Regions from separate parts of the Homo sapiens genome. Here all the other regions are linked to region 1. Evidence: fine-mapped expression QTL. A gene starts in region 1. Each other region holds a variant in brackets. All regions are shown on one strand. Distances are between the middles of the regions.

Region 1 (5,033 bases):
AAAACCCTGGTCTCTCCTATACATTCTTCCTCCTGAGAATTATCAGAATGCAGCCTCCCAAGTCTGAAAGAAAGGTAAAACCATTCTAGTCCAAGCGAGTTTCCTAAGACATTCTTACTAAGTCACAAGTACATACTCCAAGAAGCTGCCTGGCTTTTGTGGGAACACAAGTGTCAGTGAATTTAGGCTGTGGCCTAAATATGCAAATTTTGGAGCCTAACCTCCAAAATTCGAAAGATGCAGTGTTCTCTCGAAGTTTGGAAGCCTAGTTCTGGGGTGGTAATTACATGATGGCTGGAGGAGCAACTGGTGATGGAAATCCTTAGGAGACACTAAAAATAACTCACATTTTAATCGACCAATCTGGAACTTCTCTCACCCCTTCATGCCAATCGTGCAATTACCATAACTCCATTCACCATGTTCCTCAGCAGTTAGTATGCACCATTCTCAGTCCTACAAGATAGTAACTATTATCCCTGATTCACAGGTCCAGGTACAACGGCAGGTAGCACAAGATGGGGAGGGGACTGAACCACACTGCACTCACACCCCACCCTACAATTAAAAACCGTCCTTCAGCGCGTGGCTGCCGAGCACCTCAAACTGAAACAAGTGTTCTTTACCACCTTTCTCTGGAGTGACAGAGAGAAAGAAAATCCCAGTAAGCCCTTCTGGCCCTGCCCACCACCTCCCCTGTTCCCACCCAGGCCAAAGGGGGAATGCGTGGGCCCTGCTCCCACCCCCGATGCTGACATCAAAGGAGCAGAGACACGCAGGAGACTCCAGGCAGCACCCGAGGCCCTGGCCGCCAGCACGTCATAATCCCTGCAGTCGCTGCCTTTCAGACTTAAAAAGAACAATGAGGAAAGACACCCACGCTTCCCCTCACTGGGCTAGGAAGGAGAGCTTTGCGGGTTTAGACTGCAGTCTCCCCCGCCCATAGCCACCTGTGTGCCGGCTCCGCAGACGAGGTCCCCCCAGCACCCTGGCAGGGACTGTACCATCAACAGACAAATGGCAGCCGACCAAGGAGGCGACTGGCGTGTGGAACAGGTGATCCGATTGTTTTTCTAAAGAGCAAGGGCTAGGACGTCCTACGTGTTCATATGCACAATTTTTTGAACTCCATCAAGAACACGAACCCCATGCCCACATCTTCACTGCTCAATTCACATTGTCTGATATGCACCTTCCAGGGAGAAAGAGGTTTTCATGGAGAAAGAGGCAACGTTGACTATACGTGTTTACTCAAAGCTTTTTTATACCGGACTATATGCCATCCAGGTTTAAGAGAATTCCAGGCAGGCTCTAGCATTATGTTTTTCACAGAAAAAGCCGGTGCAGTAGCCCGGATGCCCAGATCCACTCATTTCCCAAACCGGTTCCCACACCCGCTGCCCACCACCTGGCGAGGAAGGAGCGGGCGAGGTTCGCTCGAATCGTCGTCACGGGTTTCCGTGGGTACAGTTATTACTCGTTACATAATATTAAACAATTAAGATTAAAAATGGTTACATAATACTGTCCTATGGCTGGCGGCAACGAAGCTCGGGATCTCGGACTGCAGCGAGCCCGCGGCAGGCGGGCAGGGGGCCGCGCGGCAAGACCTCCCCGCCTCCCTCCCGGGCCCTGTCCGCCGCGGCCGGGGCCTCTGCAGCCTGCGCAGGCCGATCCGCCCGCCGCCCCGGCTCGCGCCCACCGCCCACCGCCCACCGCCCAGCGCCCGCGGCGGAGCCCACCTGAGTACCTGGAGAGCGGGCGGCAGCACTGGCCGCACGGGGTCGCTGCGTGTGCGCCGCCGGCCCGGGTAGGGCTTCGGGGCCCGGCCCCCGCAGTGCCCGGCGCGTGGACAGCGCTCCGCATGGACAGCGCTCGGAGCCGGGCCGGGCTGGTCCTCCACGGCTCCGCCCCGGCCAGGGGCCTGCGGCGCAGAAAACCGACCCGGGGCCTCGGGGCCACCGCGCGCCAGGCGAACGCGCTAGCACGAAAAGCGGGCCAACGCCGCCTCTGGGGACGCCATCCGGGCGAGGGTGGGATGCCGCGCCACCGCCCGAGCGTGCCCGGGGGCTCCCAGCGCCATCACCACGCAGGTGCCCGGGGGCCCCTCCGCGGAGCCGGCTGCCGCCCGGCTGCAATACTCAGCCTCCGAGGGACTGGGCGCTCCTGAGGAGCGGGAGGACGACGGAGCAGCGCCCGGTCCTGGAGCACAACAGGAATCCCAGGACCAAACCCATGTGACGCGGCCACGCCCCAACGCCCGGCGGGGGCCCTCTGCTGCCCAATCCCCGGATCCCTGGTTCTCATGGCAACCCTGAAGAACCCCTTGTTCCCTCCACTGCCTCCTCTCCTCCCCCACAGCCCCCCCGCCTGATGGGCAAGGACGCGCACACTGGCCACTCTGACGATGCCGAAAGCCCTCCATGTCTACCCGCTACGCCGCATTCGCAGACAGGCGGGGGACATCGCGGCCGCGGCAAGCTAGAGATGCCGCCTGCTCGAGCAACCTTCCACCTGCAGGGCCGGCCAGTTCTACTCTTCCAGGATCACTCTCGTCTCACCCTTCTCCCCAAAATGTCAGAGCAAGAACCAGGAAGGGAGAGGCTCTTTCTGGAAGCCACAGGCATAACGTTACTGAACAACGAGGACAAAGTAGGGTCCCATTTAAACTGAGAGTCAGCGAGGGAAAGAACAGATCCTATACATACCAAGCATCTGCTATGTGCTAGTCACTTCACACACACACACACCCCACACACACCTCACACACACACCACACACATCCCACCCACCCACTCACATACATACACACCACACACATACATACACACCACACACACACATACACCACACACACACATCACACATACTCCCCCACCCCCGCACACACATACACCACAGACATACACACGAGCCTGCAATGATGGAAGCAAAACAGAACGTTTGGAGATATTCACTGCCGTTTACAAGGCCACAGTAAGCAGTAAGCAGATTTTCTACTCCCCTCTAGCAGAGAACATGGTAGGAAAAGCTAGACATTGTAGACAGCAGTAAGAACCTAACAGTCAACAGTGGACAATGGATTCTGAAACTGAGATCCTATACTGCATTCACACACGTTAAGGGGCAGGGCGCTGGGAAAACCCCATCTCAGTCTGGGGTTCAAAGAGTGGAAAAGCTACCCTAGTCCAACTGCTCGGAGGCCAGGTCAGGCCCCTGAAGGTCACTGGAGGAGGAGGCTGGAAAAAGTGCAGATATGCACTCCAAAAGGAGAGGTTCCACGGTGGTCATGACCACAAAATTCCAATATGTTTAAGTCGATCAAACAAAAGCAGAGTTAAGGCTGGTTCTGAAAGCAGCCAAGAGCAGTTTTCAACACAACACAAAGGGTAACACAAGGCTTTCTTTTCTCACAGTCCGGGCTGACCACATATGGCCTGGCTACTGCAAGAAACATTGAAGGTGTTAGCGCTTTTGACTCTAACTGCGCACCCCTCAGAGAAGATGTCACATAGTGAACATCGCAAGGCACAGAATGGGAAATGGAAGCACAGAATCAAACCCTGAGATTCGGGGAGAAACCAAAGTGTGGAGAAATTATGTAACTTATCCAAAGTCCAGAGCAGGTTACTGACTGGGAGAACTTGGCTTTCCTTCCAGACTCCAGATATGAGACTTTTCTGCGGTCTGACACAGTGGCTTCTTCCACCTCTGCAGTCAACCCCACAAAGGTGGCTCGAGTGTTCCTCTGCCTCCCTGCCCAGCAGCTCCCAGCCTGGATGGTGAACTCCTTTGCCTGAACATCCCACGCACCCTGCCATCTCCTGGGCTAGAACAACAGGTTGTGCAGGACAGAGGGCTTCCCTGCCACACTCCCCTCTATTACAAAATGCCAGAGGTCCCAGTTCGAAGCAGCTGTTCCTGGATGTGGGAAGAGCAAGAGAGAAATGATCTAATGATGGACAAGGAATCTTGAAAAGCCAGACCTTCACTGAATGGCTGACAGGACACACATTTTGCTTTACTAGAACAAGAACAGAATCTTTGAAAAGGCATAAAAGCCAGTGGTCAAGAAGTAACTGACAGCAAAGGCAAAAGAGATGAAGGCTAAGCTGGAAAGTGGAGATGAAGCCTGATGATATACTCAGTGGAAGCCCAGAAAGTCTCAGGAATGAGAACTACCATTCACCTCTGGAAATGGGAAACGTAGAGTCCAAAACAAGAAGATTAATCGGAAGTGTCAGGAATAGCTGGGCCCCATTTCATCCCGGGTCCTCTCCCCAGCTCCATCAGCTAGGTGACTTCTTTTCTGGAAGCAGGGACACAGGTCTCTGGACCAGGATCAGCAGACACAGCCATGCCTTTAGTCCCAGAAAGATTTGGTGGATCACATGCTAGCTGCCATATGAATCCCACCACCATCCCCAGCAGCTCCTGGAGCAGCACCTCCAACAGAACTGAAAGAGGCTCCTGCAGAGCTGAGAAGAGACCCAAAAGCATGAGCCCCACAACAAGCAACCAGGCGTCCATCCACAGAGGCCACAGTTAAATGCTCACTCACACAGGGCTCCTGTCAGCTTCTGAGCAATGTCCTTTTGAAAGTGGGAAGACCCCAGACAGCTAAGCGAAGCCTCTAAGGTGAAAGATGTGGCCAAATTGCATGGGACAAACACTTCCTATGCCTCACCTCCCTGGGCCCTGTCCACAGCTCTATTGAGCCGCATCTGATGGGACCCCTATGTCCTGCAGCACAGCCTCCTCCTACCAGGGCTCTGAAGAGCCTGTACACCCAGCACCTGCAGGGATGTAGCCCAGATGCAACCCTGGCCCATGGTGACGGGCACTGACAGGAGATACATCCTCCACCCCAACCCCTTCCCAGCACTGTCTGGAGGACTGGGAGCTCGTGACACAAGCCAGCCCCACATGTGGAACCATTGGCTTCACTCAATTCTAGGCACTGCCCACCGCGGGCACCCCGCCTCACCCTGCACCCAGGTTCCCTCCTTCCAGCCTCCCTCCACCAGGCTGGC
Region 2 (5,033 bases), 47 kb after region 1:
TGCATGACACAGGGGACTTTTATTGTTTGGTCTGTCCAGGATCCCCCATCCCTGGAAGAACTCATCTCCCCATCCCTTGTGGTCCTAGGTTGTCCATCAGCACACCACCCCCAGTGGGCCACAGGAGGAAGGACTGATGCAAAGGGTATGCATTTCCACAGGGCCAGGAGGGCCTCCCTTGAGGTGGCTATGTGTATGTTGGGAAGGAGAGTTTCACTTTCCCTGTGCTGCTAAACTGGGAAGCTGGTGGTGGCCATCTTCCCCACTTCATGAGAGAACTTGCCTTCAGAAGAAGCCAATACAACAGGAGGCAGAGCTGACCTTGAGAGAGAGCCCTGCCTGTATGACAGCACCTCCCATCCAGCTCTTCTTGACACTCTTCAATGTTCCACCTACATGGACCAAGACACTCCAATTGCTTTTTAAGCTCATTGTGCATATGACTACATGAAGTACCTAGCATGAGGACCACATCTTTCTGCCAGTCCGGCCCTTCATAGAATTTACACCCCACCTACTTCGATGGACACCAAAATATAATCCTCACACTTGACCTAGACACACCCATTATGCTGATTGAAACAAATCAAACTTTAAAAGCACTTCAGAAGACTACTTTTTAGAATCTAGTAATCACCCTTGATTTATGCTTTATGCAAAATTACACAGATTTTTAATGAATTTTTGCACAAATCTAAGTATAAATACAGATGCTCCTGAACTTACAATGGAGCTACTTCCCAATAAATCCATCATAAGTTGAAAATATAGTGAGTTGAAAATGCATTTAATACACCTAACCTACTGAGCATTGTAGCTGAGACTAAAACATTCTCAGAACACTGACATTAGCCTACACCTGGGCAAAATCATCTAATCCAAAGCCTATTACAAAAAGTGGAGAATATCTTATGTGATTTATTGAGTACTGTACTGAAAGCGAAACTAAGAATGGCTGTATAAGTACTCAAAGTACAGTTTCTACTACATGTGTATCACTTTTGCACCATTGTAAAGTTGAAAAACCTTAAGTTGAACCATCGTAAGTTGGGGATTATCTGTATATCACTTTAATAAGGCGAAAACAATACTACAACCTAATGATCATAAAGATATAGTGGAATAGGTACATTTATATAAGTAATAGAGTAAAAGGTTATACAAATCAACATCCATAAAATTGTGGGATTTTTGATCTAATAATCTCACTTGTGGATGTAACCTAAGGAATTTAAAAAAGTTTTTTTAAAGACAGATTCATAAGTTTTTTGCAGTCTGATTATTTAATAGAGAAATATGGGAAACAATTTATGTGTTCCACAATGGGGTCTTTTTTTTTTTAAGTGAAACCTTAACTCTTTGAAATGTTATATGATTTTTAAAAATTATAAACATGAAGAAACTCAAGCAAGATAATGATATTTATTATGGAGGCTGCATTACTCGGGACAGGTTAAGTTATTATGACTTAGAATAAGGGCCCCCAGGAGTGTGTGGACAGAGGAAAGGGATGTGAGGACATGGTGAGAAGGCAGCCGTCTATAAGCCAGGAAAAGAGCCCTCACCAGAAATGACACTACCTGCACCTTGTTGATCTTGGGCTTCCAGCCTCCAGAACTGTGAGGAAATAAATTTCTGTTGTTTAAGGCACACACAGTCTGTGGTATTCTATTCTGGAAGCCTGAGCTGACTAACACATGGGCAGAGAGGTACAAGCCTAGCATACCTCCGGAAGTGAAAAATACTGGAAATAATTGATGAACAGCAGTGATGTCTACTAAAGAGGATGAAATAAAAACAACAAAGAAACAAAATAACAGAATACATCCTTGGTGACTTAATAGCTGTATAATATAGTTTCATTTCTCCCTGGCCTTTAATACTATATCTTGTAAATGTTTTATTGAGATACAATTCACATACTATAAAATTCACCCTTATTGAGTGTACAATACAGTTAATTTTTTAGTGTATTCACAAAGTTATGCAACCCTAACCACTGTCTAGGTCCACAACATTTTTATCACTCCAAAAAGAAATGCCATTAACAGTCACTCCTCACTTGCCTCTCCTCCCAGCCCATGGAACTAGTTGTCTACTTTCAGGCTCCATAAGTCTGCCTCTTCTGCACATCTCACGTAAATGGAACCATATAACCTCTCAGCTCTGTCTCATCAAATTATGGAGTCTTCTGGCATGTGGGTTCCTCCCTCTGCACTGTTACCTGGGAGCTCTTTCAAGAGAGGGGCAATGTTAAGGCTTGCATGGTTTGCTTCCTGCCTCATGGTGATCACTGTCCTGCATCAGGTGGTGTCTAGTATCTTGAAAGCTGATGGTGTTTTTAACTTGTTTTATTGTTGTTGTTATTATTTTCATCAAGAGGATAAATGTGATACCTGTTACTCTATGTTGGCCCAAAGTGGAACCCTACATTGCATTTATACATTTTACACATTTTGCTTTCACATAAGACTGTTTGAATAGTGTGTTCTTCAGCTCGGCTACAAAGTTTGAACACTTTTTTTTTTTTGAGATGGAGTTTCACTCTTGTTGCCCAGGCTGGAGTGCAATGGCATGATCTTGGCTCACTGCAACCTCTGCCTCCCATGTTCAAGCGATTCTCCTGCCTCAGCCTTCTGAATAGCAAGGATTACAGGCATGTGCCACCTCATC[C/T]GGTTAACTTTGTATTTTTAGTAGAGACAGGGTTTCACCATGTTGGTCAGGCTGGTCTCGAACTTCTGACCTCAGGTGATCTGCCTTCCTCGGCTTCCCTAAGTGCTGGGATTACAGACGTGAGCCACTGCACCCGGCCCAAGGTTTGAACACTTCAGATGTAGAGCTGTGATCACAGTAAAGAAAATGGAGGAGGAAAGAAATGGAGGAGGAAAGAAGAGACCTGGATTTTATTTTTTTATTTTATTTTATTTTTTGAGATGGAGTCTTGCTCTGTCGCCCAGGCTGGAGTGCAGTGGCACGATCTCGGCTCACTGCAACCTCTGTCTCTCAGGTTCAAGCAATTCTCTGCCTCAGGCTCTTGAGTAGCTGGGATTAGCCACCATGCCTGGCTAATTTTTGTAGTTTTAGTAGTTACGGGGTTTCACCATCTTGGCCAGGATGGTCTTGAACTCCTGACCTCGTGATTCACCTGCCTCAGCCTCCCAAAGTGCTGGGATTACAGGCATGAGCCACAGCGCCTGGAGAGACCTGAATTTTATTGTATACAGTCCATACACAAAACTCGGGTGCAACTTATCAAACTCCAATTCATCTTCCAAACTTTCTCTTTCAGAAACACTTCCTATATGAGGTCTTCCTGCAAATGTCTGCACTGCCCTCAAATTAATCATTCCACCTTTGTATCATTTTGTCCAGTTTCAATATCTTGTGCATATTTGTTATTGCTTGTATTATAATTATTTTTGGCCTCATTTTTGTCTTCTTTGACTGCAAGCTCCATGAGGCTAGCAGAATGTGTTATATGTGTTTGGTCTGCAGACTTACCGTGATACCTGGCTCACGGTAATTGTTCTATAAATATTTTTTGCACTAAATTGTATACATATCTTTTATTTCACAAACTACGTCCATTATGTAAGCAAGCTAGTTTTCCTTCTCTTTTAGTAGGAAGAGGGAAAAAAAGTGAAAAATATCAAATGTTTTGCCTAAGATGAATGATCAGGAAATTGGAGACAAGGACGGAAACCCAGCCAGGGCTCTAGGTCTTCCACATCATTTGCTTCTCATGAGCAGTACTGTCCAGCAGAAACTTCTGTGAGGATACAAATCTTCTATATCTGTGCTGTCCAGTATGGTAGCCACTAGTCTCATGTGGCTACTGAGCACTTGATCAGTGTGACTGGGGACTTCCATACTTAATTTAAACTAATTTAAACCTAAACCTAAATAGCTACATGTGACCATTGGCTACCATATTGGACAGCCCAGCTCCATACTGTTGAAGACAGAGCCCTTGTCTTTTTCAACCCTTGAACTGCACATGCTCAACAGAAAAGAAGTTCTGAACCTGAGGGGTTTTTTGTTGATTTCTGAACAAAGAAGAAATTCAACAAAAGTGTCCAACCAATAGTTTTGCCAAACAGAAAGAAGACTGTCTAAAATAAAAAAAACCAAGATGAAATTTAGGAAAAGTAGATTAAAAGATCAACAATAAAAATGATCAAGTAAATAAGTGTTCTTAAAAACAGCCATGAATTTCAAGCCTTGGCAAAGAGTAGTTTGACCTTGAGGTTCTCTGTTCCTAAGTGACTTCCATGGTAAGCGTGGGTATGATAAACACACACACACACAAACACACAAACACACACACACACACACGAAATTGGAGAGGAGGAGGAGGATTGGAACCCAGCCAGGGCTCTAGAGCCCTAGTCTCATGACTTTCACATCATTTGCTTCTCATGAGCATTATTGTACAGCAGAACCTTCTGTGATGATGAAAATGTTCTGTATCTGTGCTGTCCAATATGGTAGCCACTAGTCGCATTGGCTAATGAGCACTGTATAAATACAGATATAGGTATAGACATATGTACTCTTAAAATCTCTTCAATTGAATTGCCTCATACTCCACTTAAGGGGCCATCCATGTTAAAGGTAAGTTATGGCCTCAGCAATGATGGCCAAGCCATTCTGATCTCCTACAATGTTGGGGAGATCTCCTTTGCCCTGCCCAGCTTGTCTGTCTCCTCTTTTTGAAGGGCAGTGTGCTGCCCTTCAAACGGTGCTGCCATAACAAGCCATGTGGCTCAAACAAGAGAAATGTATTGTCTCGCAGTTCTGGAGGTGAGAAGTCGAAGATCCAGGTGTCGGGTTGGCAGGGTTGGTTCCTTCTACGGGTGCTGAGGGAGGTCTGTTCACATGGTGTGGGGAAAAGAAAGGATAGCAGGGGGTTGCCATCAGCGTTGAGGGTGTCTGTGAAGCCCACACTTTTTCCCACTGTGGGGATGGGCTCTGCGCATATGACATTCACCTATCTTCTGTCCAATGTGGATTCCTGGGAGAAATTCTGGAAT
Region 3 (5,033 bases), 68 kb before region 1:
AAGAGGAAAGGAAGCAAGAGGTTTTTAAGCAGAGATTTCAGTCAAACTGATCCTTAAACAAAAACAAGAGCTGCTTCCACCAAAAGCCTGAGATGGGGGAAAAAGAAAAGTCAGCAAGCCAGGTGTCTCGTATCAAGGAACAAGGGGGATGCTCTTTACTTACAATTGTATTCACACAGGCTGCTGAGGCCAACATGAAAATATCTGGGCAAGCCCTGGTCAGAGTACAAAAAAACTTTTCTCCCAAATGGTAAGAATGCCTGGCCTGGCAGGGAAAATACCACCACATAAAAAATGATCACATTTTCACTAAAATCATACGGCCTAAAAAACACACAGATCAGTGGCTTGTACTCCATATTCAGGCACTTATTTCCACATAACTACCTCCAAGTGCAGCCATTCTTGAATTAAAAGCAAAAGTAGTGCATGAGCTGCCTCACTTTAACCACCCACTCTGCAGTGTTCAGCACAGAAACATCAATTCTGGTTATTCACAAGGGGAGGAGTCTATCAATCATTTACATTTTAAACAGCTCTATTGAGATATAAATTACATAACATAAATTTCATCTGTTGGAAGTGTACAAACCAATGAATGTTAGTATAATTAAGGATCTGTACAACCATCACCACAATCTAATTTTAGAACATTTCCATCACCCTACAAAGAAACCTCCTGCCCAGAGCCTGTCAATCTTGACAAATGGTTTTCCCAAAATAAAATGCCTTTGCCAAGTCAGTTTTGTTCCTGTTTTTGCATCTGGTATTCCCACATCAATGAGGCATTTTGGCCGAAAGGGGGACAGCACTAGCTCTAGAATTTCTACAGAAGAGTAGCTACATGACCTTGGGGAAGACATTAAACCACCCTGTGTGAGTATAACCTCCAAGGACTATTGAAGATTTAGTGTGATCACACATGGAAAGCACGGCTCAGTAAATCTCAGCTGCTATTTTTACTACTGCCACTACTGCCCCTGCCTCCTCCTCCTCTGCGGTCACTACCTCCCCTCCCGACATTTCCACCAGCACTCCACCCCTTCCCACCACCTCCTTCCATCTCCATCACTTCTCCTGCCACATCAGCTCCTCCTCTACCTTCTCCACCTCCTCCACCGCCACCTCCATCTCCTCTACCACCCCCACCATCATTTCATTACCACCTCCATCATCACCTCCAGCACTTCAACCAACTCCTCTACCATCTCCACCATCTCCTCTACTATCTCCACCATCACCTCCACCTCCTCTGCTACCTCTATCACCTCCACCTCCTCCACCATCTCCATCCTCACCTCCACCTCCTCTACCATCTCCACCATCACCTCCACCTCCTCCACCATCACCTCCACCTCCCCCATCACCTCCACCTCCTCCACCACCACCTCCACCTCCTCCATTGTCACCTCCACCTCCTCCATCCTCACCTCCACCTCCTCTACTATCACATCACCTCCACCTCCTCCACCATCTCTATCCCTCACCTCCACCTCCTCCATCTCCTCTACCACCTCCACCATCACTTCCACCATCTCCACCATCACCTCCACCTCGTCCACTTCCTCTACCACCTCCACCCTCACCTCTAGCTCCTCCTCCTCCTCCACTACCTACCCCTTCATCACCACTTCCACCCATTCCATCACCTCTGCTCCTTCCCACCACCCTTCACCTCTTACATCTCCAACACCTCCATTGCTACCAACACATCCACCTCCACACTCTTCATTATCTCTATATCCTCCTCCCCCTCCACCACCACCTCTACCATCACCTCTACCTCTTCCTCCCCTACCTTCACCCCTCCTCACCACTTCCTCCATCCCCAACTTCAACAAAAAGGCAACTATTCAGACACCAAAATATCCACATGTATTAACATAATATTAATTTGTTAGAATAGTCAACATGTAGCAGTACCTTAATCGATCATGAGTTCTAGAGTAACTTAACAGTCTGAGAAATCAGAAGATCAGAATCTCTAAACTACCCACTTAATAATTTTGACAACACAATCTTTAAAGTACCACAAGAGGATCAGTGACAATGCAAGTTATAGTCAAATTATATTTATATACTTTAAATATAACTTGAGGCCAGGAGCAGTGGCTCATGCCTGTAATCCCAGCACTTTGGGAGGTCAAGGTATGCAGATCACGAGGTCAGGAGACTGAGACCATTCTGGCTAACACGGTGAAACCCCGTCTCTACTAAAAATACAAAAAATTAGACGGGTGTGGTGGCGGGCGCCTGTAGTCCCAGCTACTCAGGAGGCTAAGGCAGGGGAATGGCGTGAACCCAGGAGGCGGAGCTTGCAGTGAGCCGAGATTGCACCACTGCACTCCAGCCTGGGCTACATAGCGAGACTCTGTCTCAAAA[A/C]AAAAAACAAAAAACGGAGTGCAATCCTGAGCCCTCCTGAGCTCCCAGGTGGGGTGCACAAAGCCATTGCAATTGCACTGAACCCAACTTCTTCAGCTTCAAGCTTCTCGTTTTCTCTCTGGGTCCCACAACCCCAGCAACCTCTACACTAAAACCAGAGAACCAAACCATGTGCGGCTGTGAGAGTGATCAACAGAGCCAGGGTTGCCCTCCTAGCAGATCAGGGCCGTAGGAGGCACATGACACACCCACATTCTTCCCCCATGAGCAGAAGGAAGAGAGAAATCTCTTCCTTGAACTTTCTCAACAATAATCTCAGAATTTGGAAATAACTCTCATTGTCCTGGCTGACCAGGAAAAGGCCCCAGGGTTTGATATGATGAATCCTTGGTGGTGGCTTTTCCTCATTTCTAAGTCCCTCCCACAGGTAGAGGGCAGGGGGCCAAGGGTAAATGGCAGCCAATGCCAAGAAGCTGGAGGCGGAATGAGGTAAGCTAGGTCTGGCCTGGAGCTCCAGCCTGGGGCTCCCAGGTGTGGCAGCCCTTTGAAGGGCAGGCGCGATCTGGAGCAGGGAAGGGCATGGAGCAGCTTCCAGGTGCAAGCAGAAGGGCTGGGCTGGCAGGGCAAGAGGACGGCGGTTCATAGTGATGCTCCCCAGAGGCTTTGGATAAAGCTCGTTTTATTCATAAAAATGAATAAACAGCACAGATCCCAGGGCTCAGGAAACTCAATCCCTCTGCCAAAGAGTGACTTTTCCCAGTAAGACCAAACTCGGGCAGCCATTACAGCAGGAACAATTGGTGGATCCCAACCTTGCTGTGGGCCATAAGAAACAGTTCACCTCGCCCTTCAGGTATGAAAAATCTTATTGTGGCATGAGCCAAATGTTTACAAACTGCCAGTGTGACAAACTATGATTCTGAGCAAATAACTTCACTCTCTGGGCCTATTTCCTCACCAATAAAATCAGGTTTTTGGACCATATGACGTCTAAACTTCTTCTGAGTTCCAAAGCTGGGTCTGCACACTCCACAAAAATGTTCCAAAGCAAATCTACTCCTAGAACCACGGTTAAAATAATATCATGGGTGACTTCTGAGCTTCTGGCCAATATGGAATATAAAGGATTAGATGTACCCTCTCCCCCTAAATAACTAAAACTGAAACAGTTTTCATACATTTGACAACAGGCAGCATGGGACAGTGATTCCTGAGACATGATCCACATGACGCAGCCCTACTAGTGCCCACTCACTGGCTGGAGAGAGCTTCCAAGCTGCAGCGCAGGGAGGGGGAATCTCCCTTCCAGGCAGAGCCTAGGATCGTCCTAAGGAGACAGAGTTCAACACTCAGGAAGGTCAAGGCAGAGAGGAGAGCGCTCAAGAGAGGGGGCTCTCCACACACATCTCCAGCTGAGGATTAATGACGCATGCATGTAAGGAAAATACCAAGACTGGGAAGAACCACCAGAATGAAGGAGACAGAGCCATCTGGAGAGAAGCGTGTTCCCACCAACCCAAATGGAAAACTTCCTTACGCATGGGACACAAGACAGCCCTCAGAAGGGTCCTGCCTCAACAGTGGGGGCAAATTAGCCCCAAACTAAAAGTGACTCTGGGCCCAGCTAACAAAGCTTATAAGCCAGCCTCAAAAGGGTCAAACTATTTCCAAGAAGCTTCTTTCCAGAATAAAGCCCAAAATATTTAAAAGAATAGCCCCCTCCCAAGAAGTAGCCAACACCCAACCAGGTGAAATTTACAATGACTGGGATCGAAACAAAAAGTACCAGGCATGAAAAGAAAATAAAACCCATAACGATAAGGGAAATCAGCCAAGAGAAACGGATACAGAAATGTCCAAGATGAAACAGCAGGCGATATATTAAAATGATGAAGATAAATATGCTCTGTGCATTCAAGAAGGAAAAGCAAAGCATGAGTGATAAGGAGAGAAGTGGAAGATATAAAATGACCAAATCCAACCCTACAGATGAAAAATGCAACACAGGAGATGAAAAATATGTGGGCAGGATTAACCAGACATTGGACACCACGCTTCTCTCCCCTCCCTCCATCCCCAGTGACCAATCTCCAAAGACACACTGTGAGGCTCCCTCGCCCAACGGCTGGCGTGGTCTGGAGAGGTCTAGGGTAGGAGCACCCTATGAAGACATAGTAATAGAAACTATCCAGAATGGCACACAGAGAGAAAAGGAAGATGGAAAAGATTACGATAAACTACCTCCAAATGATGAGGCCAGATGAGGGGAGGGAGGAAGGAGCTCAGGTTTGGGGCCAGAGAAAATAAAGGCTGCAGCCAGCACTTTCTGCATTCCCGCTATTTGGCCGGGCTGGATAAGTCAACCAAAGTTTCTGAGCCTCACTTTTATTGTAGGCAAATTTGGATCATACCCATTTCAAAAAGTTTGGTAGGAAAACTGAGTGAGATGAGGTATACAAAGTCCTGTCACAAAACACATGCTAGCTCCCTTCTCAAACTCCAAGGAGACAGTCTCCCACTTTGTGGCAGCCTAACAACTGCAAGGGGGTATCAAGGACAGAAACACAGAAAGTCTTCACCATTCCTTCCACTCAGAGGTGAACCTACTCTTACGTACTTGAAAAGCAGTTATAAGCACAATAGTCTGGTTA
Region 4 (5,033 bases), 36 kb before region 1:
AGAAGAATAAACATTACACAGCTGAGCACTGAACAAGGTAGGAGTTGGAGCACGAACATCCCATGCAGTTAAAAGTTCATGTATAATTTTTTACTCCCCAAAAACTTACCTACTAATGACCTACTGTTGACTAGAAGCTTTATCAATAACAGAAAGTCATTAACGCACATGTTGTATGTCATATAGTTATTACATACTGTATTCTTAGAATAAAGTAAGCTCTTTGGGAGCACTTCCAGTTTCACTAGTATGGGTCCCCTGTGTTATTCAAAGTTTACGGTATTGCATTAAACATGAAAAATACACAAGACCCACGAGAGGTCACTTTTTAATGCAATGAGCAATTTACTGGGATGGGAGCTTCTCACATGGAGATGATTAGCATCACATGGCATTTAAAGCGTATACTTGCAACATTTGAGCTCACAGCAACAGTGGAATTATTACAGTAGTACAGTAATTTTCATAACTATGAAATTAAGTGCAGTATGTACTACAGTTAATTCTATGCAGTGATGATTTCATACAGCACCTTCATGGGTTTTTTTACATTTCTGTCAACAAATGGCTCCATGTATGGTCTGTGTTTGTGTAAGTTTTGACAAACTTTAACTTTTTTATGATTTGTATATATTTTAGAGTAACAGCCTAGTCTTCTACATATATTTTATGCATTCATGACATAGCCTTTTCTTAATTTTTTTGGTATTTCTCGGCTATGCTGTAAGATTTTTCAAACTGTTGCAAATCTCAAAAAAATTTTCTAGTAATTACTGAAAAAAACTCCACATATAAATAGACTCACACAGTTCAAATCCATGTTGTTCAAGAGTCAACTGTAATTTTAAATTTGCAATGCGTATTACTTAAATATAGATTTAAAATTGGGTTCCTTTTAAAAGAACTTATTGTTCTCTGATATATTAATATTTTTCTAAATTCATTAAAGATTTGTTTCTACCTTTGGAATCCTTGATACTTGAATTTTACAAATTCTTACAAATTACCGAATGCCTTTGGGTGTCTTCCAAGGAATAGATCTTTGTACATTTAAACTATAAAAAGAGAAACAAAAATTAAGACACCAAATCAATTAAGACAAAGAGGGGAACAATTGCCATGACAACACATTACCAACTATAACCCCCACTGGTCCGGAAGCACTGTCTTCCTTTGGGAATAGATAAAGCCAACGGGAAGGAAAAGCAAAACCACTCAGATCTGTCTTTGCCGCCTAAAAATAGTGAATTTCATAACTGTTGGGAAAACGGCTAGAACTTTATCCGAAAAATAAAAGATGCTCTATAAAACAGCCCTTGGATTTAAACACTTTATAAACTAAATGCGCTCCAAAGTCATTCCAATCAATATTAGATGGTAAACCATTTGTCCCTATAATAAAACCCAAATAACTCACAGAAGACATCTTTTTACCTAAAGAAAACTTTTTAAAGGCCTCAAAAAGTTAATCACTCTTTCTAAACGCTAAAGTAGTTAATCACACTTTCTAGATGCTAAAGTAAACTCTCTGGCTAAATTAGGAAATACTGAAGATAGTGGCATCAGATCTTAATCTCATTCTTTTGGCAAATCTTGAACAAGGCCTGGGATTTGCTCTCTTCCCAATTAGGCCCCAGAGTCCAGTATCTGAGCTGTAAGGACGCTGTCCTGGGTGCCACTGAGAGTAGGATGTGGCAGTGTGAAACCATACAAGCTCCACAGGCAGCCTGGTTTCTTCATAATCTGTACAGATGGTTCCCAACTTGACAATGGTTCAACTCAGGATTTTTCATCTTTATGATGAGTTGATGAGGATGTAAACCCATTTTTAGTTAAGAATCTCCTTACAACTTACCATTGGGTTATAGTTTCTACTGAACACTTGTCGATTTCACACCATCCAAAAGCCAAAAACACAAAGCATTATTAGATCAAAAATTAAAATTAAAACAGTCAAACCGTCATTAAATCAGGCACCATGTACCGTGTTGCCAGCACTGAATGCATTTTCAACTTACGACATTTGTGTCTTATGATGGGTTTATCAGAATGGAACCCTGTAAACCAAGGAGTGATTTATTTTCTTTTATACCTAAGACCGGGATTCTAATGAAATAAGGGAGGAGCGGGCACCCTCTGGTGACACTGCCAGACCCAGGAACTGTGTGGACTCCTGTGAGGGCCTTTCCTCAGCAGCACCAAAGAGGATAATGGCAATCACCAAAAACTACCTGCAGACCCTCCCTGCTGTGCTGCAAATCTTCATTCACCCTCAGCTACTCACTTTCTCCACAAAAGAGGCTTTTTGCCTACTGCCCTAAACCTCCCATCCCCACCCTTTTCAGTGCAGCATCCCCAAACCCCTTCCTGCAGAACACCCATATCACTTCAGGGCCTGCACACCACCCAGTCTCTGCCC[C/G]CCGGGCCTCCAGTCCCCAGGGCTCCCCTGGCCTGTCCCTGCGTGAGCCATTCTGTGCTCTCGCCTCAATTCATGACCTCTTCCTGCCCATGTCCTCCCTCCCTTGGGTCCATGAACATTTGTGTGCATTTCCCACTTCAGGAGGGAAGGAAGGGAGGAAGCAAAGTGACATTTCTCTTAAGCATGTCCTCCTCTAGCTCTAGCCCTTTCTCTCTCTGCATCCCTCTGCAAGTGTTGACAAAGCATGTTCGAAACCCGCTGCCTCCTACCCCTCAAATCAGCAGTCTCTCCAAAGCCCCAGTTTCTGCAGCGAAATTCTCTCTAAACTTATTTGAATCATTAGGAGTTTCCATCATGGTCTCTTCTCACTCTCACAGTCATGGTCGCTGCTGGTGGGCACTACAATGAGGAAGCCAGGCTAAGGAGAGACACACGACCTATCCCTGAGCCATGAGCCCAGGCGCGGTAGCTGAACCTGGCCTGGGGCTGGGATTCCTGCTTTTGAGGAGGAAACCCGCGAAGCAGAGCAGGTCCCCACCGTTCCCTCCAAATCCACAAAACAAAGGCGCTTACAGTCAAACAAGTTCAGGTTTTCTATAAAGTCAAATGTTTTCCTTTCTTCCAGTGCTTCTTTGAGCCTTTAATCTAGCAAGGCAGCTCTCTCAAGAGGAAAAGTGGGGTGAAGCATTTTCAAAGATGGTTTTACCCTCTCTCCAACCCTTTGGGATTTTTCTCCCTCCACCCCGCTTCTCCATTTCACCCCCAGAGCTGACTGGGCAGACACCCACCACGCTCACTGTTGAGGGCTCTGCTCCAACGCTGAGAGAAATGGCATGCAAGCATGGAGCAGGGCAGCTCCATGGGACCCCAGCTTCTCTGCTGAAAACAGGCCGCCTGGGAGGAGAGAAGCTGAGAAACCAGTCAGCAGAATCCTGCACCCAGGCCTTGATGGATGCTCAGGAGAGAAGTGGTGCATTCTGAATCTAGCAGGTGGGACACGTGAAAGAAAAGCGGAGTGGAGACCTCGGGCCTGGGCAAGTAGAAGGAGGGCGTCTCCAGACATCGAGATAGGAAAGGCGTGGGAGATGATGAATGGGCAGGATGCATGTGTGCAGATAGGAAATTCTAGAAGGCAAGATGCATGCACAGGTGGGATTCCAGAAGGCAGGAAGCATACCTGCAGGTAGGAAATCACAGAAGGCAGGACACATGCGTGCAGGTGGCAAATTCTAGAAGGCAGGACGCATGCGTGCAGGTGGGAAATTCCAGAGGATAGGATTGTTCTCATCCCCGCCTGATGATGCTGGTGACACTGTTATTTCAGGATGGGGAGGGAGTGGATCTGCTCTAATAACTGAACGTAATCACTCACCCCCCGCCCCATCTTTAACGGGGTCCTGTGGTTTCGGATTAATTAAGGAAGCCCTAGGTAGGGGTTTTCCTCCTCTCTGCCTAGCACCCTGGAGGAGGCCCCGTGGCCCATGACGGAGTAGCCATGTGCTGGTGTTAGAGATGGACATCAGACAGTGCACACCTACCTGCTATAGGCCAAGTGCCATGCAGATGGACACGAGTGGGCACCACAACAGCCAGGGAGAGCGTCACGGCAGATGTGAGAGCTGAGCTCGGGAAAGTGTTGGAAATTAGGAGTGGAGAAAGGAGGTAGGAGAAACAGCATAACAAAACCAGAGGCAAAGGCACACACAACAGGCTGGGAGAATGCGGAGAAAATCAGGGTACCAGGGATGGGGTCGGGTAAAAACAAGCCTTTGTGGAACATTTATAATGGGCCAGGTTCTCAGCTAAGCGCTGACTTCCATTTTCCTTCTCATTCTTCCTAACAATACCCCGAGTGTCACTGAGGAGGAGCCTGGAGTTCAGGAATGTAAGCAACCCCAGTGTTTAGCTGCTGTGGCGGGGACCGAGGCCTTTGGACCCCATAGTGCTCCAGGAATAGGGACCAGTTGGGGTAAAGGGCAATGATATCCATCTTGACCACAAAGACTCTGAAGTAAAACAATCGAATTTCATGGAGAGAGTGAGACCCACGTGTGCAAAATGTAATTTCTCTAATCCTCAAAACAGGGAAAAGCTACCAGGACATTTATTTCCAAAAGGCCATAAGAAATCAGAACCTCTACTTTATAAAGAGGTGCTACATTAAAAGACATATTAAATAAAAACTCTTGTTCTCTCACCTGTAAAAGGGTGGAATGGGTCTAGACTCTACAATCTAGAGGATGCCACAATTTGTCAAACTCAAATGGTCTAGATGTTTACAAACACGTTAGTCAATTCTATATAAAATGTTGGGTTTTTTTGTTTTGTTTTGTTTTTTTGTTTGTTTTTTTTTTTTGAGATGGAGTCTCACTCTGTCATCCAGGCTGGAGTGCAATAGTGCGATCTTGGCTCACTGCAACCTCCACCTCCTAGGTTCAAGCGATTCTCCTGCCTCAGCCTCCAGAGTAGCTGGGATTATAGGCACTCACCACCATGCCCAGCTAATTTTTGTATTTTTAGTAGAAACAGGGTTTCATCATGTTGGCCAGGCTGATCTCGAACACCTGACCTCTGGTGATCCACCCACCTCAGCCTTCCAAAGTGCTGGGATTAC
Region 5 (4,997 bases), 290 kb before region 1:
GCTGAGGTGGGTGGATCATGAGGTCAGGAGATCGAGATCATCCTGGCTAACATGGTGAAACTCCATCTCTACTAAAAATACAAAAAATTAGGCAGGCGTGGTGGCACGCTCCTGTAGTCCCAGCTGCTCAGGAGGCTGAGGCAGGAGACTCGCTTGAACCTGGGAGGTGGAGGTTGCAGTGAGCTGAGATCATGCCACTGAGCCGAGATCATGCCACTGCACTCCAGCCTGGACAACAGAGCAAGGCTCTGTCTCAACAACAACAACAACAACAACAAAAGCTCTAAATCTTAGATTCTTTATGAAAAGGTTCCAACAAAACCAATTTAAAAACAACAACAACAAAAAGAGCGAGAGAGCAAACCTATATGGCAAATGATTATTCTTGCTGCACTTTATCCAAATAATCAAGCCAATCATAATAGAACTAAAACTTATTTTACAAATAAATTGGCCCTATTATAATCTTGTATTTAATACAATTGGGGAACTGGAAAGAGAAAAATTATGTTTCAAAATAAACTATAGTACATCTGTAATTAGAGTCTAGCCTTGCCTAATGTTTGTCTGTTTTTATTATTTTCTACAATTTGGGCTGAATTCTAAAATTTTTCCTGGCTACAATTCTGGAAAATAATGTTGTCAGTTTTTTTTCCTTCTTTCTTTTCCTTTTTAATCGTGATTTGAAATCACTAAATATTAAGCTATGCTTTTCTTAAAGCCCTGTAAACTGAAGCTAGACAACGTCAACTTTGGAAGAAAATAACAGGAACCTATTTATATACGTAAATCACTTTCATACCTGCCTACTGACATAGGGACTTCAGAGTAATACGGTTTATGTCAGTTTTCCAGGATTGTTCTCCCTTTATTTTTGTTTGTTTGTTTGTTTGTTTCTCTCTCTCTTCCTCCACCTATTTTTTTCCTTCATGGGTCATGAGACTTTACAACCTGCTAAAAATGAGCTTTCCTAACCACGTGGGACCTGTCTAGAAATAAACTGTCTTAGTCACAAGAGACCAGACAAAACCCCAAGACTAGAGACGCATTTTCTTCTAAAATGCATTTTCTGAAGACTTTTTTTAAAAGGGGAGGGGAAGAAATGTGAACGGAAAATAAAAACTTGGTGCCTCAATTTACTATGCCAAAGGAAAAAAAATAAGCTGGATGCTTTCATGCAAGAAGATACCCTTCCTTTTGTTCCTAAGCAGAAAGCTACAGATAAAAGGTTAAATATCTCTACAGGTAGCTACTCTATGCTCACCTTATCTTATATAAAGAGCTGATTTACTGGGCGTGAGACAAATATATCATTGACTATTCCTCTACCTGCTCCTTTTCTCTCACAACACGTGGATTCAGTAATGTGACCATTCCCTCCCTCTTTCCCCTCCAGCTTGCCCTCCCCTTTAAATACTGCCGGCCTCAAAATCATCTTTGGGGAAAGGCACAAAGCACACCCTGTTTCTGTGATTCCATGTTTATTCTTCCAGGAATGTCCCTAAGCTTAGCAAAATAAAACATCTGAATTGATTGAGACCTGTCTCAGATACTTTTTGGTTAACAGGCCCTAATCCAATGTGACTGGTGTCCTTATAAGAAGAGAAAATTTGGACACAGGTAAACAGAAGGAAGACCATGTGAGGACAGGGAGAAGACAGCCATCTGCAAGCCCAGGAGAGAAGCCTCAGAAGAAACCAGCCTGCTGATGGCTTTATCTCAGACCTCTGGCCTCTAGGACTGAGATAAATCATCTCTTGTTTAAGCCGCTTGTCCATGGCACTTTGTTAAGCCAGCCCTAGCCAACTAATGCAGGCACAGTGCCCCCAAACAGTAAAGATCAGCAATTTCTGTGTTAAAACACAAATCTTTCAAAGATCAGATTTCATCTATCAACATTCATGCCATTTTTATAGTGTCATGGGACAAAACCTTGGGTTTTGGAGAGATCTGATTTTTCCAGGTACACAGCATCTCACCAAATTCTTTGACTCTTGTTCTGTCGAGAACGCACCGGCTCAGGAGAGAAAGAGCACATTCTCTATTGCAATTTAAAAACATATTTTGTAGCCTTTCAAGCCCATAGGAAGGTAAGAGGTTCCTCAAGTATTGCAACCACCCTGCCCCACCACTGTCGCCCACTCCAGAGGATGGGAACTAACCCCATCACCCTTCTCTTGTGGCAGACTTCCAGACACCGCAGGCCTCTCTTGTGTCTTAGGGCTTACGTTTAATTCCTTCTACAAGGAAATTTTCCAAATGGCCTTTTCCAAATGGCCTGGCCTCATCCCTGTGTGTCCTGTGTCTCTTCCCTACATCACCTCCACTTTGTCAAATTTCCCCTCACAGGCTGGTGGCTGAACTGAACCCCGAGCGCCGGGGAAGAGTTGTCCGGGAGAGATGAGCGCACAGCCGCCAACTTGCTGGCATCAGCTCTGCAGCGTCTGCGGCAGCCTCGGGGCATCAGCTCTGCGGCAGGCACTCCACGTCCCGAAAGGCTCAACTCCTTCTCACCACCGCACTGACTAAGCAGGTTTTCTTCAGCCTTAACATACGCACTGGTTGTCTGGACCTGAGGGCAGGACGCCGCATTCATTACACTCCTTCTTATCGTGTGTCAATATTTGCCTCCAAGATTAGGGACCCAAAATATTTCTGGTCCCTGACCGCTTCAGTTTCCTCATCTGTAAAGAGAGCGTGGCAATGTCTGTGTCCCTCAACACAGGGCTGTCGTGGGGGTCCAGAGAGCTACGAGAGGTTAGGGACTTAGAAGGGAGCCTGGATGTACCTATCCGCAGTCACTAAACAGCCTTGCTGATATCACTGTTCTATCCAGGCATTGAGGACGGCCTCAGGGCGCACGAGAACCCCTCCTCCGGACAGCCCATCAGCCCTGCCCTGCTCAAGGGTGGTTCTAGGGCTTCCTTTGTGGAAGGCATCTGAGGACGCCTGCCCCTTGCAAAACAAAAGCATGTAGGGAGAGCCACTTGTTCCCGCCAGAGCCTGTGGATGCTCTGCCTGGTCCTTCCGAACTCCAGCCACCTTAGAGGATTTTCCCCACTGACCAAAAACCTCAGCAGAGCGGATTTACATTTCAATCAAAATTACCCCTCGAATAAAGGGACCTCTGGCACACGGTGCAAACTGTCCTCACTGTGTTCCACCTTGGGTGAAACAGAAAAACACAACCACAAGAATACAAAAGAATACTCACATTCATAACGGCCATGTCTTTCATAAATACTTATTTCAGACAAAATTAAGTCTGAAATGCCCACATACCAACTGGTTTTAAAATTATATAGCAGAAGTTTGGGGAAAAAGACTGACAAAAAATAATTTGATTTGTATACAAGTAAAGGACTAGAAATGTGGTTAGCCT[T/TA]AAAAAAAAAAACAGGAAAAGGTCAAACGGGTATTTTGGTAACCTTGAGAGCTGACATTAGTTGTTTTGTATAAAAGCTGCTTTCCTCATGCTTAGGAGGAAAGTGAAAAGTTATTCACTTAATTACATACTGAACAATTTTGCAAAGCCTTCTGAATATTTGGAAAATTTTGCAGTTTTGCATACTGTACAAAATTCATGCAAATCCTCCTGGCCCTATGATCAATCAATCAACTTCTTACTTTAAAACTTTAGAGAAACTAGTTTCTAGTGTCCCTGTATCACTGCCCATCATCATTATTTCTTTAAACATTGTGTAGGTGGTGTAATATCACCCACTTTAATGCTTTAGTTCTTTTTCTTATTCTAAATATCACCAAGGTATTATCATGCTGTTATTAAGAATTTCCGGCCAGGCACCGTGGCTTACGCCTGTAATCCCAGCATTTTGGGAGGCCGAGGAGGGTGGATCATGAGGTCAGGAGATCGAGACCATCCTGCCTAACACGGTGAAACCTCGTCTCTACTAAAAATACAAAAAATTAGCCGGGCGTGGTAGGCGCCTGTTGTCCCAGCTACTCGGGAGGCTGAGGCACGAGAATGGCATGAACCTGGGAAGCGGAGCTTGCAGTGAGCCAAGATTGCACCACTGCACTCCAGCCTGGGCGACAGAATGAGACACTGTCTCAAAAAAAAGAAAGAAAGAAAGAAAAGATTTTGAGCCAAGATCGCACCACTGCACTCCAACCCGGGCGACAGAGTGAGACACTGTCTCGAAAAAAAAAAAAGAGAGGAAGAAAAGAATTTCCAGGGAAATTCTTAGGAAACATGGTTACTATTATTTTTCTTTCGCGAATACTTTTTTTTTTGAGACAGAGTCTTGTCGCCAAGGCTGGATTGCAGTGGCATGATCTCGGCTCACTGCAACCTCTGCCTCCCAGGTTCAAGCGATTCTCCTGCCTCAGCCTCCTGAGTAGCTGGGATTACAGGCATGCACTACCACACCCAGCTAATTTTTTGTATTTTTAGTAGACACGGGGTTTTACCATGTTGGCCAGGCTGGTCTTGAACTCCGGACCTCAGGTGATCCACCCGCCTCGGCCTCCCAAAGGGCTGGGATTACAGGTGTGAGCCACTGTGCCCGGCCTTAGCAAATACTTTTAAGCATTTGGACTCAGATTGCTTAAACTTAGCATTACACTAAGACTGGTTACGAATCTAAGAATGAAAACACAAGCTACTGAATTAGAAGTGTGTACTTGCATTTGTTTTCTGTCAATGCTGGATAAATCAAATAAAAAATTGTCCTTTTTAGGCTTCTCATTTCTTATGCCAGTATGTTGCAATGATATTCCCTAGATAAAAGTTTCCAGTGAGGCTAAGAATTAGCAATAATTCCATCAAGGGTTCAGAAAAGGCAGCAAGCAGTGAGCTAAGTGACTATTGCACCCCTTTGGCTCTGGCATCTTCCCTGCCAGCTTCTTTCACTGTCACCTCGGACAGGCAACTGACATCTGTGAGCAGGGAAACTTACCACATGGCAGAACAGTCAAAATTCACCAATAGCCATTTGTGGGGATTAAAGTTGAATGAATCTGCAAACTGCCAAAGAACA
Region 6 (5,033 bases), 520 kb before region 1:
GACTTTCTCTGGTTTTGAATCTAATGAACATCAGGATGCTTGAAGTTTAAGGTTAGATAAGTATCAAGAAGCTGAATGCTTATCTGGAAACTTTGAACTTTCAGTGCCTATTTGGGTAGAAAATGTCATGATTATACTTTGTTGCCTGATTTCCATAACTTCCTGAATTTGAAGGGGCCAGAAATTCTTTGAAAAAAGAAAAACCACGGTGGAGTCCGACTGCCTCTGATGGCAAATAGAGTGAACCAAACAGAAGTGTTCAGGAACCATCTCAGCTTTCCATCTCCACCTAACCCTACCCCATAGATAACCCTGCACTTCCTGGATTTTAAACAATCGGTAGTTGGATGGCAGGGAGTTGCAGGATTTCTGTTTTTCATTTGTACCTGGCAGTTTTATCTCTCTGTGGAGTCAGGATAGTACAGCAGGCCACCACCCAGACCTTCCACTCACTGTCTCAAACTCCTCATCTGAAGATGTGAACAGAGATCACCATTTCACAAGGTTCTCATGGGAACCGGTAAGCCAACGTACATTTCCTGGCACACCTCAGGCTCTGAAAATGCCCATCTCCCTCCCCTTCTTCTTCTGCCTTCCACTGGGGGGACTTGTTCTGGTAATGGGACTGCCCTCCCCACCCACAAAAAAAATAGGTTATATAATCCACCATGTGTGTTATTGCACCATATGATGAAGAACTAAACAGACAACCTGTGAATTTCCATTGAGAGCTTGCACCCCAAGATGGAGTCAAGGTTTGAGAAGGCCATGCAGGAGGAGGGAGACTACACTCACCACACCACTTCTCTCTGGAATAGAGAGAAGGCCCCAAAGAGGTCACTCCCGTCTGGTTGATTAACCTTGCTTTAAGTCAATTAACAAACTTTTTCTTTGAAAATTTCCAAGCATAATTGTGATTATCCCTGACTACAACACATTGATTCAAAAGCACAATGGGAAAAGAGGAAGAAAAGGTCCCTCCCACCTCTGTCTCTTGCCTTTCCTAGATTAGGTGAGTGAACACAGTACTGAGTCATCACTGGACTTGATTCTCATTCAGTAGCCTCAAACCCAGTGAAGTTGGACAAAACAGGAAATGATCTGAAAGAGAAGATCTACAGGGGCCAATATGAAATGGCAGGGTGCTCTCCTCCCAGAGGAACTCTATATTAAACTGTGGAAGTTAACCAGATAATTGCCAACTCAGGATATTTCAGAATAGCAAATCTGATCTTTCTTTTTCAAACTGAAAATCCAGTAAGAAATGTTTTCTTACACTTTTGTTTTATATTATCTTTATCCTTTTCACTTATTTCTATCCTAAATGTCTATTAAATTTGAATTAATCTCTCCTTTGATACAGTTTCTCTCTTACTATCTGGTCTGTAAGAATTTAAGGCATAGACTATGTATATCTTTGTTCACCAGCATCGTTGGTGCTGGCATAGTTCCCAGCATAGTGGAGAAACAAAATCACTATATAATGCACTTTTTACTGTGGATTAAAGCCAAAAAGATTGTAAGTTCTTGAAGAAAAAAAATCTCTCTTTTGCTTCATATGCATCCCCCTCTACAAGGCTGAGCATCTCACCTTCCACATAACAAGTATTTATTATCAAATAAATGAATGAATGAACAAAAGTATTAAACATTTATTCAGAACCTTCTGGAGGGCAAGCTAAAAAGAAACGTAATGGAAGACAGGTTCCCTGTCCTTTATGAGGATAAAATTTAGTTGGGAAGGGATGATATAGATACAGAGAGTTAGATAACATTGTCAAGTAAATTTAAGTTACCTATGATGTGTGCAGACATGGAACATGGAAGAAAATTTACTAAAGACATAATCACAGGCAGTTAGGAATGCCTTCTGGGAGATACACAGACTGGAAGCAGCTCTTACAAGAAGGACTGTAGAAAATGGAAGATGTAGGTAAGGAAACTAAAATGTTGCCATGTGTTTGATGCATATTTTCTTATTTCATCTTCACATGTCATCAAAGAGGGGGAAAAAATAAGAGCCCATGCGTAGTAAATAGTGGGTCAGGATCTGAATCCAAAGCTAACTGACTCTGAAGAATATTTTCATTCTTCATGGGAATACCTCTCACCTGAAAATAGGAAGAAGGAATTAAATGAAGGGAGAATGGCATGAGAAAGGACCTGGAATTGGGGGGCATGCCTGGTTGCAACTGAAGCTGAAATGTTAAGATGGAGTGGAGTTAGTTTCCAGGGAGGCAATGCTAGAAACATAGATAGAAGCCAGATGAAAGCAATAGTCAAAAGCATGCTCTGCAGCTTGGACTTTGTTCTGTGCTTTGAATGGAAAACTTTTCAAAGATGTTAAAAGGTAATAAGTATTCCAGGAAAATTAGTCAAGCTCTTATATAAGGTAAAGTAAAATGGGAGGACTCAGAGGCAGAGAATGAGAGCTATTGCAAGCGCCCAGCGGAATGATGCTGACAGACTTGGGTAAAGTGAGTTATTCATTCATTCATTCAGTCCCTTAAGTATTCTCAAGTATCTCAAGAAATACAGCAAAAGAACAGGGCAGGTGCAATGCTTTTTCTAATGGCACCTACTTTCTAGTGGGGAAGAGAGACAGTTAAGAGGAAAAAAAATGAATATTGTTAGAGAGGAACAGCATCATGAAGAATCATCAGGATAGTGGGGTGAAGAGTCAGATAGAGGGGCTGGTGATGTGCGAGGTTGAGTGGACAGGGAAGGCCTCAGGAGGGCAGAACAAGCCCCAGGACCAGAAAGACCAGGCAGCAGAGTGGGGAGGGAGCCTGGCTCAGGGAAAGTCTGCAGAGAGGACAGAGGTCTGACGATGCAGGGTTCATATTGAATGAGGGAAGAAAAACATGAATGAAAGACACACTAGGAAGATAGGTTCTGTTGTAGGTTCTGTGTGTCTTTGAACATGGGGGTAAGGAAGAACTTCAGGGTGATTTCAGACTTGTGATTCTCTAGGACTAAGAGGTGACAAGGAGAGGTGAGGGTTTGGCTTGGGGGGAAGGGGAAGTTTTCGGTTTTATGAAAAAGAGCAGTAGGAGATAGAGGTAGCCCATGACTCATTTGTGGCTTGAAACCTCTTTCTTATAAGAGCAAAACTATTTTCTTTCATACCATTGTGGAATTTCCGAAGC[T/A]GGAATTGCTGACTACATCACAGAACTCATTTGCTCAGCTGAGAATGTTGTGTGCCTTGGGAAAGGTGGTCACACCTACCTCTACCTACAACGTGTGAATGTGGAGTGTGCAAAAATGCCAAAGGGGCAGGACTCCAGGCATTTTTCTATCAAAACACATTTCACTAGTTTTAAATTTGGTTATGAATAGCTCTCCCAATTTTGAAATTGTTTTAAAGTTGGCTCAGAGTTAAAAAAAAAAAAACCAGCCACATTAAGAATGAAATCAGGGAGCATGAAATATAAAGGAGTGAAGATGGTGGAGGGTATAAAGAAAAACCTCTGTTGAGAGTTGAGGGATGGAAGATAACATACACAGAAGCTTAGAAACTGATTGAGGCCTTGACTCTGAGCTTCCTTGGCTTGTCTAAGTCAGGACAAAATAGGAAAACTCCAGTTTGCACAATTCACAGTCTGGTCACAGTGGATCTTGCTGCTTTTCAGGAAAAATCACATTCCTTGGCCCCGTGCTTTAGAAAGGTATATATGCATAGGATGCAAAATTATCAATAACATCCCTGGTTTTTTTAAAAAAATGGCCACAATAACAATTATTCCATGTGGCTGTTTCTTTCAACAATCCTTAGTGGAAAATCTAAGTCTGAAAAGCTTTGTGGCGTCGTCTTGAGAGGCAGAGAATTGGGTCCAGGTATGTACATTTCTGGAGGTCTGGCTTAGTCCTGGGATAAAGATTGGATAATCTTGATGAAAAGGCCATCACTACAGCCTAGGGTGTCCTGGGTAAGTGGCATCTCTGAAGGTGGTGGGTCTCGCCTAGCAGACAGGCACTGTACCTGCAGCCTGAGGGAGAGGCTCTTGCTCTGTTCAGAGAGGGTGTTATGTTAAGAGGGTCACAGAGCTGGGCTTGTGCTGGAGCACAGGGCAGGAGGGGTAGGGGGCAGGGCTGTACTGCCTTTACTGGTCTTCACCTCCTCCCTTCTGGTGGGCTCCACCAACTCTTCTTCCTGCCCCAAGTGTGTGGTCTGCATCACCCAACACTTGTGACTTTCCTGTCATTCTTTGCCCCTGTGCAATGCTACTTTGCTCTTGAGAGTCTCGGCTTTTTGCCGGGAAAGATCATCACAGCTCATCTTCCTGGAGAAACCAGAGACTATTGCCTCCCACCCTGACTTCCCAGTATGTCAGCTTGGATAAGTGCTTCAGAGGGGGTGAATGACACTTTACACTTTGAAATCAGGAGTGTCTGTTCTCAGGCTGACCCAGAGCCGCAAGGCCACCTGTGGCACCCCTTCTCCATGCCCAGGTGACTCTTCTGAGCTGTCTCTACCCCAGGCACTTCTGCAGTCCTGCCCCTCCACCTTCATTGCCTTGGCTTGTCCTAATTAAAATTTGTAATTTAAAAAAAAAAGAAAAATCAAAAGCTGGTAATCGCGAGCCTTCCTTGTAAAAAACACAGCTTATTTCTATCATTAGCAACCTGTGCTGCAACAGAGCCCCTGACACGTGCATTTCAGGAGCAATTAGGAATCGCTGGCTGCATTTACATAACATTAAAATCACTGTCTACATATGCAAAATAAAATGAATCTCTTCCCATTGCTCCCACAGGCACTGGCCTGAGATAGATTTCTATCTGTTTTTGCATTTTAGCCACATGGATTTATTTGATCTGCCCATTATTTGCTTTCCTGGTAACGGGAGGTTTCCCTCCACTCTAACTGCCTGGCCAGGAGCAGCAGGCTGGGCACACCCGCGCCAAACCACTCGGGAAGAGGGGGTGAGGCGGGGCCGCGGCCTATCTCATCTCCCCTCCCCAGCATGCCTTGCAGCTGCAGGAAGCCACCCACCCATATTTCAGAAACCACAGGCTCCTGTGGGTTCCGA

Alleles and levels. Positions count from the first base shown, and alleles are read on the strand shown. Sizes are in standard deviations (SD) of each study's normalised expression. Not every link is listed here.
With allele A in place of T in region 6, the expression in cerebellar hemisphere of the gene that starts at base 2,223 in region 1 is higher (moderate effect, 0.63 SD a copy in GTEx).

The links. PIP is the estimated chance that this variant, and not a neighbour inherited with it, causes the effect.
Region 2: its variant is fine-mapped to the expression of GRB10 in whole blood (TOPMed, PIP above 0.99).
Region 3: its variant is fine-mapped to the expression of GRB10 in whole blood (TOPMed, PIP above 0.99).
Region 4: its variant is fine-mapped to the expression of GRB10 in whole blood (TOPMed, PIP above 0.99).
Region 5: its variant is fine-mapped to the expression of GRB10 in naive CD8 T cells (Schmiedel 2018, PIP 0.95).
Region 6: its variant is fine-mapped to the expression of GRB10 in cerebellar hemisphere (GTEx, PIP 0.98).

What each region holds. Positions count from the first base shown.
Region 1 is chr7:50,780,674-50,785,706 of GRCh38, forward strand. It overlaps GRB10 (growth factor receptor bound protein 10), which reads right to left and starts at 2,223. Exons shown (of 19, transcript NM_001350814.2): 1 at 1,751-2,223; 2 at 1-63.
Region 2 is chr7:50,827,352-50,832,384 of GRCh38, forward strand. No RefSeq gene overlaps it. Among named protein-coding and RNA genes, the nearest start is that of GRB10, 47 kb to the left of the region's middle. RefSeq lists an enhancer at 1-247. The variant C/T (reference allele first, on the strand shown) is at 2,674.
Region 3 is chr7:50,712,285-50,717,317 of GRCh38, forward strand. The region is part of intron 4 of GRB10 (growth factor receptor bound protein 10); the gene reads right to left. Among named protein-coding and RNA genes, the nearest start is that of GRB10, 68 kb to the right of the region's middle. RefSeq lists an enhancer at 2,926-3,441. The variant A/C (reference allele first, on the strand shown) is at 2,383.
Region 4 is chr7:50,744,372-50,749,404 of GRCh38, forward strand. The region is part of intron 3 of GRB10 (growth factor receptor bound protein 10); the gene reads right to left. Among named protein-coding and RNA genes, the nearest start is that of GRB10, 36 kb to the right of the region's middle. The variant C/G (reference allele first, on the strand shown) is at 2,420.
Region 5 is chr7:50,490,434-50,495,430 of GRCh38, forward strand. It overlaps DDC (dopa decarboxylase), which reads right to left. Exons shown (of 15, transcript NM_001082971.2): 9 at 4,917-4,984. Among named protein-coding and RNA genes, the nearest start is that of DDC-AS1, 39 kb to the right of the region's middle. The variant T/TA (reference allele first, on the strand shown) is at 3,383.
Region 6 is chr7:50,262,037-50,267,069 of GRCh38, forward strand. No RefSeq gene overlaps it. Among named protein-coding and RNA genes, the nearest start is that of IKZF1, 40 kb to the right of the region's middle. RefSeq lists an enhancer at 5,031-5,033. The variant T/A (reference allele first, on the strand shown) is at 3,150.